Regions from separate parts of the Homo sapiens genome. Here regions 2 and 3 are each linked to region 1. Evidence: fine-mapped expression QTL. A gene starts in region 1. Each other region holds a variant in brackets. All regions are shown on one strand. Distances are from middle to middle.

Region 1 (4,242 bases):
ATTAGTCTCACCTATGAAAGAAATGGCCTCAGGGAAAAACTGGGACAGGTTTTGGCTCCAGTGATCCGAGATGGGGATTTGCTTGTATTTAAACTCTCCTGCGTTCTCAAAGAGATTCGGCAAATTGGGGGTGACGTTCAAGATGTACTTGATGCCGAATTCCTCCAACACGTCCAAGTTGGTGGAGTCTTTGGCACAGCCCAAGTAGAGGAAGGGCAAGATCTCCACTGGGAAGGAAGGCTGGCTGTTGGACAGCGGACTACCATCCGAGTCTGTTGCACTATTGGGGTCTCGGTCAAGGTCAGACTCGATGTCCGAGGAAGAGTCAGAGCTGATCCGCAGGCCCCCGAGCCCCAGCACTGGCAACGGCGGCGAGCTGCTGCTACACGAGCCGTCTAGATTGGTCTCGCAATGCAGGGAGAACTCGGCTTGGAACTTACTGAAGCCACCTGCCAGAACGAGAAAAGCAATCATCTAACCTGAGAAGCCGTAGTAGTTTTCACAGCTTGTAAGAACCGCAGCCCGGCGCAAGAAACACCACAAGCATCCTACGAACCCCCTACATACAGAACCATCTATAAGAGAAACACACTTTAAATGTGCACCATCGGGAATGGAACGAACGGGCCCGCCTCGCCAGGGAACCCTTATTCGCTTGAATCCGGAAATAGACAAAATGGCAACTTTTTGGAATATTTTGAGAGCTAAGATGTGCCAATTTGCATCCCCAACAATCTCTCCCGTCCTGCAAATCTTAATTCAAAATCGAACGATAGAAAACAGGGTGATGGTGGAGGATGTTCTGGCTAAGAAGGCGCAGAACCCGTTAGAAAGAAACCGCCGGTACCCGCAGCCGGAAGCGAGTGGATTCTGAGCCGGCCCGGTTCTCTGGTGCGGAACGCGCGGTTCGCGGCCCCTACCTCGCCGGCTGCCGGTCCCTAGGCGGGCAGCGCGGCTCCGAAGCTCCAGCTGAGCGGAGCAGAGGTATTTTCAATCCACGCGCCCCGCCCGCAGCCCTGCGCCCCTAGCCCTGCCCCGCGCGCGGAGTTCCCTGGGCGCGTACCTTCCAGGTAGAACGCCCGGCAGCCCTCGTCCTTGAGCTTCTTGAGCAGCAGCCCGAGCACCGACTCGCCGCCCGTATTCTCGTTCCAGTCGCTGCTGCTCTCGTCGTAGAGCACCACTGTGTCGGTGCCACAGCGCCGGGTGAAGCGGTCCCGGTCCTCGCCGCGCGTGAAGAGCGCGCGCACCGGCAGGTTACCCTTCTGCAGGCGCCGCAGCATGATGCCCGGGATGGCCACGTTGATGGCCGACTCGATGTGCGACGACTCGTATAGCTCCTGCGGCCGGCAGTCCATCAGCAGCAGCCGCTCGTTGCCCAGCTCCAGCTGCTCGTTGAGCCACGCCACCGTCTTGCTGATCGCCATTTCCGACGCGAAGGGCACGGGTCTGAGCGTATCTATCATGGGGGTCGAGCTGCGGGAGAGGGCGGGGTGCCTACCAGACGCCCCTCGGGGCAGGCATAGGCCGAGCGCACCGCGCGCGAAGCTGCCGCTCTCGGAGCGGGGTTTAATTCCGCCTCGCCTTACCCAAGCCGAGGCTAGCGGTTGGGGCAGACGAGACAGAAGTAAAGCCGGAGGTTCTCTCTGCACCCAGCTGCAGCCGCTGGCTCTTAGTGTCAATGAATCTCTCTCAATGAAGCTGCCCAGATAGTTTTTGTTCCTCCCCAGTGAATGAAATCCAATTAATTCGGACTCCGTGCTACTGAGAGGGGAGGAAAAAAAGTCTAGCGGCTTCTAATCCCTCCCTCCAAGGCTGCACCTCAAATCTACCCGGGCGTCTTTCTCCCCGGATTATTTAAGACTCGATTTGCTATCTCTTGGACTCAGCCTCGCACACCCCCTGCGCGAGGCAGCTCCTCAATGGATACAAACAGCGAGCGTCTCAATGGATACATTCTCCGGGCCAGCCAATGAGCGTGCTGCGGAAGGGGCTGTTGCCGTGGGGACGGGCCGGCTGGAACAGGTTGTGTTGATGAATTGTTAATGAGTTTGTCATTCACAAAAACGGAAAGGAATTTCCGCTCCGGATAAGCCCCAGTGCAAACAAGCTGCAACAGCGGGCTCGGCGGGAGGAAGGAGAAAGAAGGGGAGGCGGCAGCGGAGGAGGAGCAGGGCACATAAACCAGGGCACTTCAGTTGTCTCATGTTTCCTTCTGTTGAGAGTTCACACTTCGCGTCGGAACTTTTGCGCACCAATGGCGCAATTAGCATGCACAAAAGCCCTTGTTCGCGACGCTTGCGTTCGCGAGCTAGCTTTAGGAAAACTTGTGCTGACTTTTCGTTCTTTGTATTCCCTTCAAACTCATTTGGACCCAAGTTCGCCTTAACCCTCCCCTCCCCCAACCCCCCTTCTTTAGGCGGTGTGTGGCATTTGTTTGCCACTTTTAAAGGCCCAGCTCTGTTTGCTCTGATGTTCTTTTAGCCGAGGCTGTGTTGGGGCTGGTGAACTGACTGGGCTTTAGTGACCGATGAGGTGTTAAATGCTAATCCAACATATTTCGAAACAAACCAGGATTTTGTTGAAACATTTTAAAGCAAACAAACAAACGTCTGGTTGTGCAGAAAATCAGAAGAAAACCTTTTTTCTTAAAATAACATTTTATTTTCATTAAAACAATGTAGAGTGCAGAAACAAACTCTTAGGTCAGTCCAGTGCTTTTACTGTATTCCGCTCCGGCGGCGTGGGGAGTTACAAGCCATTGTTCGGGGGAATCTATATCTCTCCCCCCGCCCCACCACCACCATCGCCTGCTGGGAGGTCGCGCTGGTTAATGATTTCTGGGCAAGGAGCTCGGCTTCTGACGGGGGAGCCGGTCTGGCGGGGCTGCCTGAGCGAGGTGTGCTGGGACGCGCCGGGCCGGGCCAGCAGTCCCCGCCATGGGCGAGGCGTGAGGAAGTCCTCCCGCAAGACCTGCAGGCTGCGGGGGCTCGGCAGGGGGGCTCGACGATTGGTTACAGTTGGCAGGGAGGCATGTCAGAGGGGGCCTCCCCAGCCCTCTCCTGCCGCCGCCTCCTCCCTTTGTCCAGCGCCGGGCACTCCGGGGAGCACCAGCCGCGCCTGCGCGCTGCGCTCCCTGCCACCGCCCCGCCGTCCCCGTCTCCCCGCTTGGGCACGGGGCTGTGCGCGACGCAGTGGACGGGTGCGGGGCTCAGCGAGGGACTCCCGGGTCCATAGAGATCTGGGGAGGGTGGGGGGAGCAAGGACGAGTGCCTGCCGGGACCCCCCTGGCTCCTCGCTCCCAAGGAGTCGAGGGGAACGTCTCTACCGCGCTGCAAAGCCAGCAGGTAACTTTGGGGAGGTGCGGGCCAGGCCAGCGAGCAGCACTCGGCCCAGGCGCCGCGGGGCGGACGGATTGGAAGCCGGATGGAGGCGTGGCCGGGTGGGGGCCGCGGCGGCGGGGAGGCGCGTTCCCGGCGCGCAGAGCTCTATTGTTATATAAAAGTGCCGAAGCCTGCCCCTCCCGAGCGGAAAACCACCTGTGTGCGGCCGGCGCGGCGCGAGAGGGATGCAGCCGGAAGGCGCGGGCCCTAATCCGGCCTTCCCTCCCTAAACCCCGGCGGAAAAGAGGCCGCGCTTTGTCCCACCGCTGCCTGAGAGGCGGAAGCGGGGGCAGCCGTCCGGCGGGGTGCGGCTTTGGGGAGTGTCCCTTGCTGCGCTTTGCGCCTACCGTGAACACCGCGAGGGCGCCTAAGGTCGCGGGGTCTCCCTTCGCCCGACGCCCCGCACCCACGGGCATGCCTGCTAACACCCCCGCTGCAATTTGCATTTTTAGTCACCCGCCTCTTCCCTGGTTTGGGAAATGTAGGCTAAAAAAAGGCGGCTGCGAGGCCTAGGTTGCCAATTTTGGAGCTCTGCTTCAGGCAGGCCGCCCCTGGAGGAGCGTGTTCGACAAAGGTGGGGATTGCCGAGCTCCTCTCCGCACCATTTTTGGGCAGTCCTTGGAACAAAACTCGTATATTTCACTGGGTATCTTCTAGTTTCAGCCGGGGGAGGCCTGCGCTGGAGTTGACTCCCCCTGTCCTCCACGATCTGTCACAGAAGTTCCCACCCCGAGACGTTTCAGTCATTGGGACCTGGGGACAGGGAGGGAAGAGGCAGGATGCCCTTCAGCGGAACTGAGAAGAGCAAACCTGTTGGAGGTTCAGCACAGGACCTCCAACAGAAGAGAAAGGGAGGGAAGTT
Region 2 (4,242 bases), 140 kb before region 1:
AACTTCTTTAGAACAGGATGTCCTCCTTCCTTTAGGTGACAGGTTACATACTGAGAGTTTTTTCATCCCTATTGAAAACATCTCATTTGCTGCCAAACTATATGTAAGGGAAAGAAGCAAGGTCTGCCCTCAAAGGCTCCTTGGAGACTGAAACCAGAGAATAGCCGGACATACACGCAGTATGAAAAGTCTAAATTAAACAATGGCTTTACAAGAGCACCTTCCCATGTGACTTTGAATCAGAGTAAAGGGAAGTTCACAAAAATCAAAGCAGTAAAAGGGATCTTTATTTGGAAAGTACTCATTAACTGGGCAAAGCCAACCTTTAGGAATTAGATCTGTGAGGAAAATCCTCCTGGCAATGAAATCAGGACTTTGAATTCTACTGGCTCATAAAATAAATAATAATATCCACTTACAGTTCTATATTACCTTTCAGTTTACAAAGTGGCTTCCCATAGATTATTTTATTTTATCTTCACAACACTCGTCTTACATAATGATGCCTGATTATTCCCTTTCATGGGTTAGGAAATTGAGGCTGGAGAAGCAGACCGGATTTCCTCAAGGTCACATAGTTATTAAGAAGCAAAGCCCAAATTGACATTTTGGTCTCCAGACCCCCATTTAGGAGCTGTTTCTTTGTTGCATCTCTAAAGTTAGTAAGCCATAATTTTATATTATCATATCTAGGTATACGTTCATTTGTAAAAGCCCCTGGTTACTTAAGATCTTGAAAAAGAGTTAGGCTAGGCTTAGAATAAGGCAGAATTTCAAGCTGTTTTATATGTTCCCTGTGACAATGGCAAGAATCCAAGGTACATTTTGAAGACAAATAAAATGAACAGTATTTTTTTTTTTGAGACAGAGTCTTGCTCTGTCACACATGCTAGAGTGCAGTAGTACAATTTCAGTTCACTGCAACCTCTGCCTCCCAGGTTCAAGTAATTCTCATGCCTCAGCCAACCAAGTATCTAGGACTACAAGCACATGCCACCACACCCAGCTAATTTTTGTATTTTTAGAAAAGACAGGGTTTCACCATGTTGGCCAGCCTGGTCTCGAACTCCCGACCTCAGGTGATCTGCCCACCTCGACCTGCCAAAATGCTGGGATTACAGGTGTGAGCCACCATGCCCAGCCCAAAATGAACAGTATTTTTGAATTTCATAATAGTAATATCAAAGGCTAAAACTACTGCACATATTAGAAGCTCTGTCAGTGGAAAAAAAATCAAATTTCCCTGATCAACTTATAAACTTGAAACAAGTTTTTTCTAGGGCTCTCTCTTCACTGAATTAAATACTATGATTTTGAATGTTGAAAATACTTGAATCTTGCTTTTAGTACACACAGTTGTAGAGTTGTGCTTTTCCTTTTTTTTTCATTGTTTATTTTTTAACTAATGTGAGCTATCTTAAAACAGAGAGCTATGGTGAAAGGGCAATGGTTAAGCAACCAGAGAGATCAGGCTTTGAACCCAGGCTCTACCTGGATGATCTGAGTAATTGATTTACTGAGAGCGTTATCTACTTAAAGGAAGCAAAACTATCATTGCTTGATTCCCACCAGAGTATGGAGGCAAGCCTGGAAAATAAGACATTTAAGAAGAAAGAAACAGTATTCTTAATTAAGGAGGGGTGCAAAATAGTGAAGACCACTGGAATTCAGCAGTTCTAATTCACTAAAGTCATTTCAATCTTTCAGGTAGCCTTTTGAAATAATCAAAATGCTATGGAAGAATGTTGTACTTTAAATGCTATGAAAGATGCTATGTTCCATAACATTTAAAGTACAACATAATGTTGTACTTTAATGCCAGTCATTGCCTGTGGCCCACAATTCATTTTCAGAAAGTCCATCCTGCTTGTACCAAGTGACACTTAGCACCCAATCTGATGGAAAAACACCCACCCAATGGAGAATCCATCCATAATTCAGCAAATCAGATTCTCTGACCTGGGTATATAGAATTTAGCATTAGCAACTGAGACAGTGAGATGAGAGTTGCTTGAAGGTGGCAGGGACACATTGACAGGTGTAGGACCAAAGTCAGGGCTGGACCCATTCAAGCAAAAGCTATGTCTAAGCAGAAGTTAAATGGAGCGGGGCAACCATGAGTAAGGTGGTAAATATGAAAAACACAATTAAGCAC[G/A]TAAGAGGAGAAAAGTAGAGTCAAGAGGCTAGTAGTTCAGCAAGAGAAGAGAGTGGATTCAGGTACTGATTTTGCAGTCCCGGGGCCTTTCATGTCCTGGTTGTACTTTTTTCCCTCCAAAGTTTTCAGAGATGCCCTACTATCCTTTCAGCAAATTTTACTAAAACGTCTGAATGGCTTCCTGTCTCTTAGAAACAAAAGGCCATGAGCATAATGCTTTTTTTAATAAAGAGGCAAGACATTGATTAAATTAATAAAAATACATGCCAACAAGTCAAAGAATGAATTAAAAGCCACATGGGTGAGAGCTGGCAGAAGCAGAGAGTTGGCATGCAATCAGAGATGGGTGAGGTTCACCAGAGAGCTCTCCCAAAAGAAATGAACTGAAGCAAATTTGGAAAGAAAGAAGGTGATGTGTACAGTGAGAAAGGTATTTGGGGAAATATCTGCAAAAGATAATAAAGATCAAACCTCTGAAAGTGAGTTCAAAACCTGGCTAGTAAAATTGACTAATCTTTCAAAGAAATAAAAAATTTTAAACTAATTTTATTTCTAATGTAATATCTTCTAACCTAATGAAGATATTTTTAAATATTAAATTACATTGAAACTCATTTTCTCCAGTTGAATGAAAGTAGTTTGTTTTTACTAATTTTGATGTTTTTAAGTCCAAAATCAAGTGTGCCCTTAGTGTCTACTCAGCTGCTATCAACTTTCAGTGTGTCAAGTATTTACATATTCAAGTTCTGCTTATGAAATTGACATACGTTTCCTAGTCCATGGCTCAATTAGCAAAAAGAAGAACTGTTCTTATGATAAACATTCAACCAGTTTTAATGTTATGACTTAACAATTTAATTTTCTAATAGTTATCAAGTCTAACATTTATAACTGTTAAAACACCTTGACATAAAAAGATACATATTATTTATTTTAAATTCCAGTGTTGGCTTTGCCTCAAAAAAAAAGTATATACATTTCATATTAGGAGGATGCAATGGATTATCAAAAAAAACCATATGAGAGTCTTAGAGCCATGACCGTGTTTGACACAAGTGTTATATGTCACCAGCATGAACAGAGAGTTGACGGATCAATCAATAATTACTAGCAAAGTAAGAACAAGTGATTCTAATGTGAAGGAAAGAAAATGGATGAGAACAGCTGTTGTACAGCAGAGTCTTCCCTTTTGAGTTACCAGAAAAAATCATAAAAGCCATAGTAAAGCCCAACTGCAGCTACCAATATCTTGCTATCATTTGCAGAGGTAGTTTGAACTTATTAAGTTATGACTTCAGGTCATTCATTTGTTCCACAAATATTTATGGAGTTCCTATCATGTGCCAAGCTCTGAGTGCACACTGATGAATAAGAGGCTCTCTTTGTGGAGATTATGATCTAGGGAGGTATGGGACCTCCTACATAAAATTACTTCAGTGTGACATTCCCCAATCATGCCTCTGTGTCTTCTAATATACTGTCATTTCTCCACTGAGGACTGTCTTCCATACATAAACCACATACACAATGTGCAAGGGCACGCCCACAAGCATGCCTTCTTTAACTATTTCCAGTTCCTCAGTCTTCTGTATAAATATTACCTACACTAGGAATTTCATTCCTAATTCCCTTGCTTCTGATTTAAATGTTCCATCCTCTGTGCTCCTATATATCCTGTTAATGCCTCTATCAAAGCATGCATTGTAATGAATAATTTGTTGCTATTGTTACTTATTGTGGGCCTGCCCTATAAAGGCAGAGACCTGGATCTAGCACAATACTTGACACACAATAGGTGTCCCATAAATCTTCCTTAGATGGAAGAGCAAATGACCTATTGAGAAGCAGTGGTGGCTGATAAGCCAAAAAAGGAAACAATCTTTGACATTGAAAACATTGGTTTTAGTTTTAAAAGATTTTTATTTGTGAACAAGAAGAAAGGACTATTCATCTCACATTGTCTTAGAAGCTTGGAAACAAATTATATTTAATACTTGAGACTCTTCAGAATGTTATAGCCTGTCCTTCACCAACTCAGCACATTGATTTAACAGAAGTCCAGGAGTACAGTTAGTATTCCTTGTACT
Region 3 (4,242 bases), 220 kb before region 1:
TTTGGGTGCAGGAAAATCCTTGCCCGAAATATATGCTATAGGGAGGTAGTGTGGAGTGAGGTTCAGGGAGAGGGTTCTGGAGTCAGCTTGCCAGGGAGAAGCCAAGTCCAACTCTCGCGTTGAGTTGCTTACTAACTGGACATCCTCAGGCAAGTCACTTAAACCCACAACAGCCACTGTTGTTCACTAGTCGGCTTGAAGTATAGCTAGTACCTAGATCATAGGATTGTAGTGAGAATTAAGTTAGACAAAATGCTGAGAACAGTGGCTAGCAAAAAGTAAGCCCTCAATAAGTTGCAGGTGCAATTAATAGGAAAGAAGATTATAAGATTTGGTGCTTTTCTTGTCAGCATGAAAATTGAGGTGTTCACATTTATTAGGCATCTTCTCAAGGCTAAGCTTTGACTTCAACAATCCTGTGATATTAGATATGATTACCTCTATTTTTCAAATAAGGAAATCGATGATTAAAGAAGTTACAGTAACCTTCCCAATATCACACAGTGAGTGGCAAACTTGAAATTTGAAACAAAGGTGGAGTAATCCCAAAGTCTTCTTTCTTTCTACCCCACAACTTCATTATGCATGTTTCAAAGACCTTTCCTAGCTACCCTATAAAACTGTAATCCTACCTCCTAAAGGTCAAGCTAATAGTATCTGTCCATTTCTAGCCAAATGGATTCAGTCTAGTGTGGAAACATACTATATCAGAATAATATGGGAAAGGGATCCAAAGCCATCTTGATTATAGAATGTAACTTTCACCATGGAGGAGGGAGGAACTTACAGATAGTTTAGGTTTTATAGTTACCCCATAGAAATACATCTTCCCAAGATTATTCTGAAATGTGGAAGTGATTCAACGAAAAATGAAGACTTTTTTTGGTGGCATGTACAGGGAGAAAGACAAAGAAAAATGCACACTAAGAGAGAAATGAAAGAAGGAAGAGCAGAGAGAGAGAAAGAGAGAAAGAATTCATTTCATCCCAAAAGAATTGCAGAGGAATCACAAGACCCTATACATCAATATGGTGTATCCAAGGACGTTGAGAAGGAAAGTGATGGGTTCAGGACGCCAGGGTGTGGAAAAGGCCAGCTAGCCTGATAACACAGTACCAAAAGTCCTTTCTTCTTCCTATATTCTGTATCCAGCCCAGCGTTTAAAAGCCTCAAAAAATCAGCCCTCTTAGAAGAAAAACTGAGAAGCCACTCTAGATGTCCTAGAAGAAAGATAAATAAAAGTGCTGTCAGAGGTCATGATGGGACCTCATCTCCTTCTCCTCTGTCTAGTATAAAGGGTCCCACTTCTTCCATGGCTGCAGAATTGCAAGTCTGGTAAAAGCCTCCAGGATGGAGTGAAAGGAAAGGTGAGAAGAAGATGGTTAGAAAGTCTAGAAGGTGAGTGAGCTGGGATAACTGGGCCATATTTCCTAGGATTCACTACCTTAATCAGTGAAATTCTGGGATTAGAGTGCCTTCCCTCACTCTGCAGATTATCTGAACTTTAATGTTTTCACATCTTAGAAGATGACTTGGTTTCCGTTACAAAGTATCCAGTGTTTTTTATATATCCATCTCCCACATTCTCAAGTACATAAGGTGAGATTGTGGTGATAGTTCCATGTTTATGCATTTGGAAGAGAACCACAGCTTTTTCAGGAGCCAAGAAACAATACCATAGAAGAAGCGCTATTTACAAATAATTAAAATGCACACATGCATGTACACATACACACACACACACACACACACACACACACACA[C/G]AGAGAGAGAGAGAGAGAGAGAGAGAGAGAGAACAGATGCAGAGAACAGACTCAGCCCTCTTAGAAGCATGTCAATGGAGGCATGTCAACACTCAATGAACAGGACGGCCAAAAGCCAGGAAGGTGAACTCACCTTTGGAACTGATAAGAGTCATTGTTTAGCTTTCCATTGTTCTTTGTTTTGATCTAAGGCTGCCTCTCCTATCACTTTCCCCTTGTCACAGTCTCTCATTGTCAGCACTGAGACTGAAGAAAATTGTTCCTTCCATGTAAGAGCAATACACTCCCCTCCTTTTGTCTTTTTCAGGAAATTAGTAGCTCATGTTCCACTAACTGGAGTGTTTTGCCTTATCTCATTCTTATAAGTGAAGTGGGAATTTCAATGCCATAACTTAGAATTATTCTGTCCAATTCACCCTAAATGGATCCTGTTCTCATTGCAACATTTATCTCTAGGCCTCACTAAAGATAATATTCAGGCTTACGTACAGGCACACAATTGTCCTCTCTTCGGCAATGAGGTCTTTAGAAATGTGATGAAATGTGACAGGTTTTTGAATTAGGCTCTAGAAACTGTTTCTTTTATGACTAAATGGATTTCTTGCCATTTTAGAAGCCAGTCTCTACACTGTTTTAAAATTTACTTTAAAGAAGGACCTGGGAAACTCTGGGATTTCTAAATAGACAATACTTGCTCATTGTTCCAGAACCATCTTACAGGCGTTCATTACTTTTTCTGATATTTATTTGAAACTTGAGGCTTAAAAATAACATCTAGTCGTCAGATGGAAGCTTCAATGTACTCTTTCATTATGTAAGTACTAAGGATGATACAAACAAAAAAAAATGCAGGCTAAGGTCATGGCTTTTTACAGTGTACAATTGAGGTTCAAGAGAAAATTTATAGCACTAAACCTGGGTGACATTCTTCCATGATGCACTAGTCCACCCAATTGAATTTTTCATGACTGGCATCCGTTTTGATTGGTTGGAATATGTGCTATGTTAATGGTTAAGTATTTTACCATCTAGCTCAATTCTTTATTTCAAAAATACATCAAGCCTCAAAGAAGTTCAATGATTTTTCCCGGAGTCATACAGATATTAGATAGCCAAGAGTGGGTCTGGTCATTTGAATTCTACTTCAATATCCTTTTCACTAACATATAATCATCCAATTATGTGCAACCATGACCTATGTTCTATTAAGACCCCACTGTTACGATAACAAAAGAAGGGCCTTATAAATCAATATCATAGCTTAATTATTTTATAGCATTTAACATACCGTAAAAACACATAGACTGTTATAGCTTATAATAAACACAAATATCTTTTCTCTGACCATAGCATAATAGAAACTAAGCTCAGAAGGATTTATCTAGGAACAAAAGAAGGAAATTGAAATGTACTAGTTTCTCTGGATTTAGTCCTGATTGTCACTGATAATTCTGTGACTTTGTGCATGTCCTTAGTTTTCACATAGGAAACTGGGCAAGTCTAAAAGATAGGTGCTTCAGTGAGATTCTCAGGTGAGTGGTTGAATTAGGTGACAATTAAGATCCATTTCAACACTGAGATTATATTATTACCTGATCTGTATACCAGGAAATTAATTTAAAAGACCCTCCTCACTGACCCTATCAAGGAGCCCTACTTCCAGCACAGATGATCACAGTGAATTCCACCCACAAAGCAGCTCTGATACGGAGAAAACCAACTCACAATTTCTAACAAGCCATTGTAGCAAAGACTGTTTGCCTTCCACCAATATTTATGTGCTCCTTCTTTTTACTATTAATAATATAATTCCCCACCCAAATTTTCACTAGGTTCAAAGCTTTCCAACTTTAGATGGCAATTCCTAGGCTCTCTTGCAACTGGGTGTGGTTTTGTGACTAAGTTCTGACTAACAACCTGTGAGCCAGAAATGATGTGTTAAGGGTTCTTGTAGATTTTGCCCTTAACTAGAAGAGATGTGCCCTTCACTTCCTCTTTTCCCCTTCTCACCAGCTAGAGAAGAGTTGCTATAGCCAATTTGGACACAGAGATGGAAGCTGTGTGTTAAATATAACAGAGTTAATATAACAGCCCTGCATTGCCTATTCTGGACAGACACATGAGGGAGAAACTTATTTTGTTTAAGCCACTGCACCATGAGTCTCTATTTTAACAGCTTAGATGTTTTGCCCAATGGCACAGTTATAGTGAGTTCTGCCATGGAATACAAATGAGGACTCCAAGAAGAATGCATCAGTCTTAGATTCTATTCAGTATTACCTGCCTACAGCATTCCAGTTCCACTTACACAGAAATACTTTTAATCATAAACTAAGACATCTCAAGCTTCAGAATTTATAGGAAGATTTGCTGATTCCTAGGGCCAATGACAGTTTTAACCCAATATATGCTTTAAAATAATTAATGGTAGAATGAGTCTTTACAGTTAACATATTGTAGTCAAATATTACTTTTCAAA

Direction of the effects. Positions count from the first base shown, and alleles are read on the strand shown. Sizes are in standard deviations (SD) of each study's normalised expression. Not every link is listed here.
For the expression in whole blood of the gene that starts at base 1,925 in region 1, C is the high allele of the variant in region 3 and G is the other (small effect, 0.34 SD a copy in TwinsUK).

Evidence for each region. PIP is the estimated chance that this variant, and not a neighbour inherited with it, causes the effect.
Region 2: its variant is the best candidate, but not a certain one, in a credible set for the expression of DUSP6 in whole blood (TOPMed, PIP 0.83).
Region 3: its variant is the best candidate, but not a certain one, in a credible set for the expression of DUSP6 in whole blood (TwinsUK, PIP 0.74).

The regions. Positions count from the first base shown.
Region 1 is chr12:89,350,577-89,354,818 of GRCh38, forward strand. DUSP6 (dual specificity phosphatase 6) reads right to left here and starts at 1,925. Exons shown (of 3, transcript NM_001946.4): 1 at 1,064-1,925; 2 at 12-449. The coding sequence starts at 1,463. It overlaps POC1B-DUSP6 (POC1B-DUSP6 readthrough), which reads right to left. Exons shown (of 11, transcript NR_189589.1): 10 at 12-449. RefSeq lists enhancers at 417-1,051, 4,101-4,150 and a silencer at 2,871-3,180.
Region 2 is chr12:89,212,487-89,216,728 of GRCh38, forward strand. No RefSeq gene overlaps it. Among named protein-coding and RNA genes, the nearest start is that of DUSP6, 140 kb to the right of the region's middle. The variant G/A (reference allele first, on the strand shown) is at 2,156.
Region 3 is chr12:89,132,481-89,136,722 of GRCh38, forward strand. No RefSeq gene overlaps it. Among named protein-coding and RNA genes, the nearest start is that of LINC02458, 110 kb to the left of the region's middle. The variant C/G (reference allele first, on the strand shown) is at 1,764.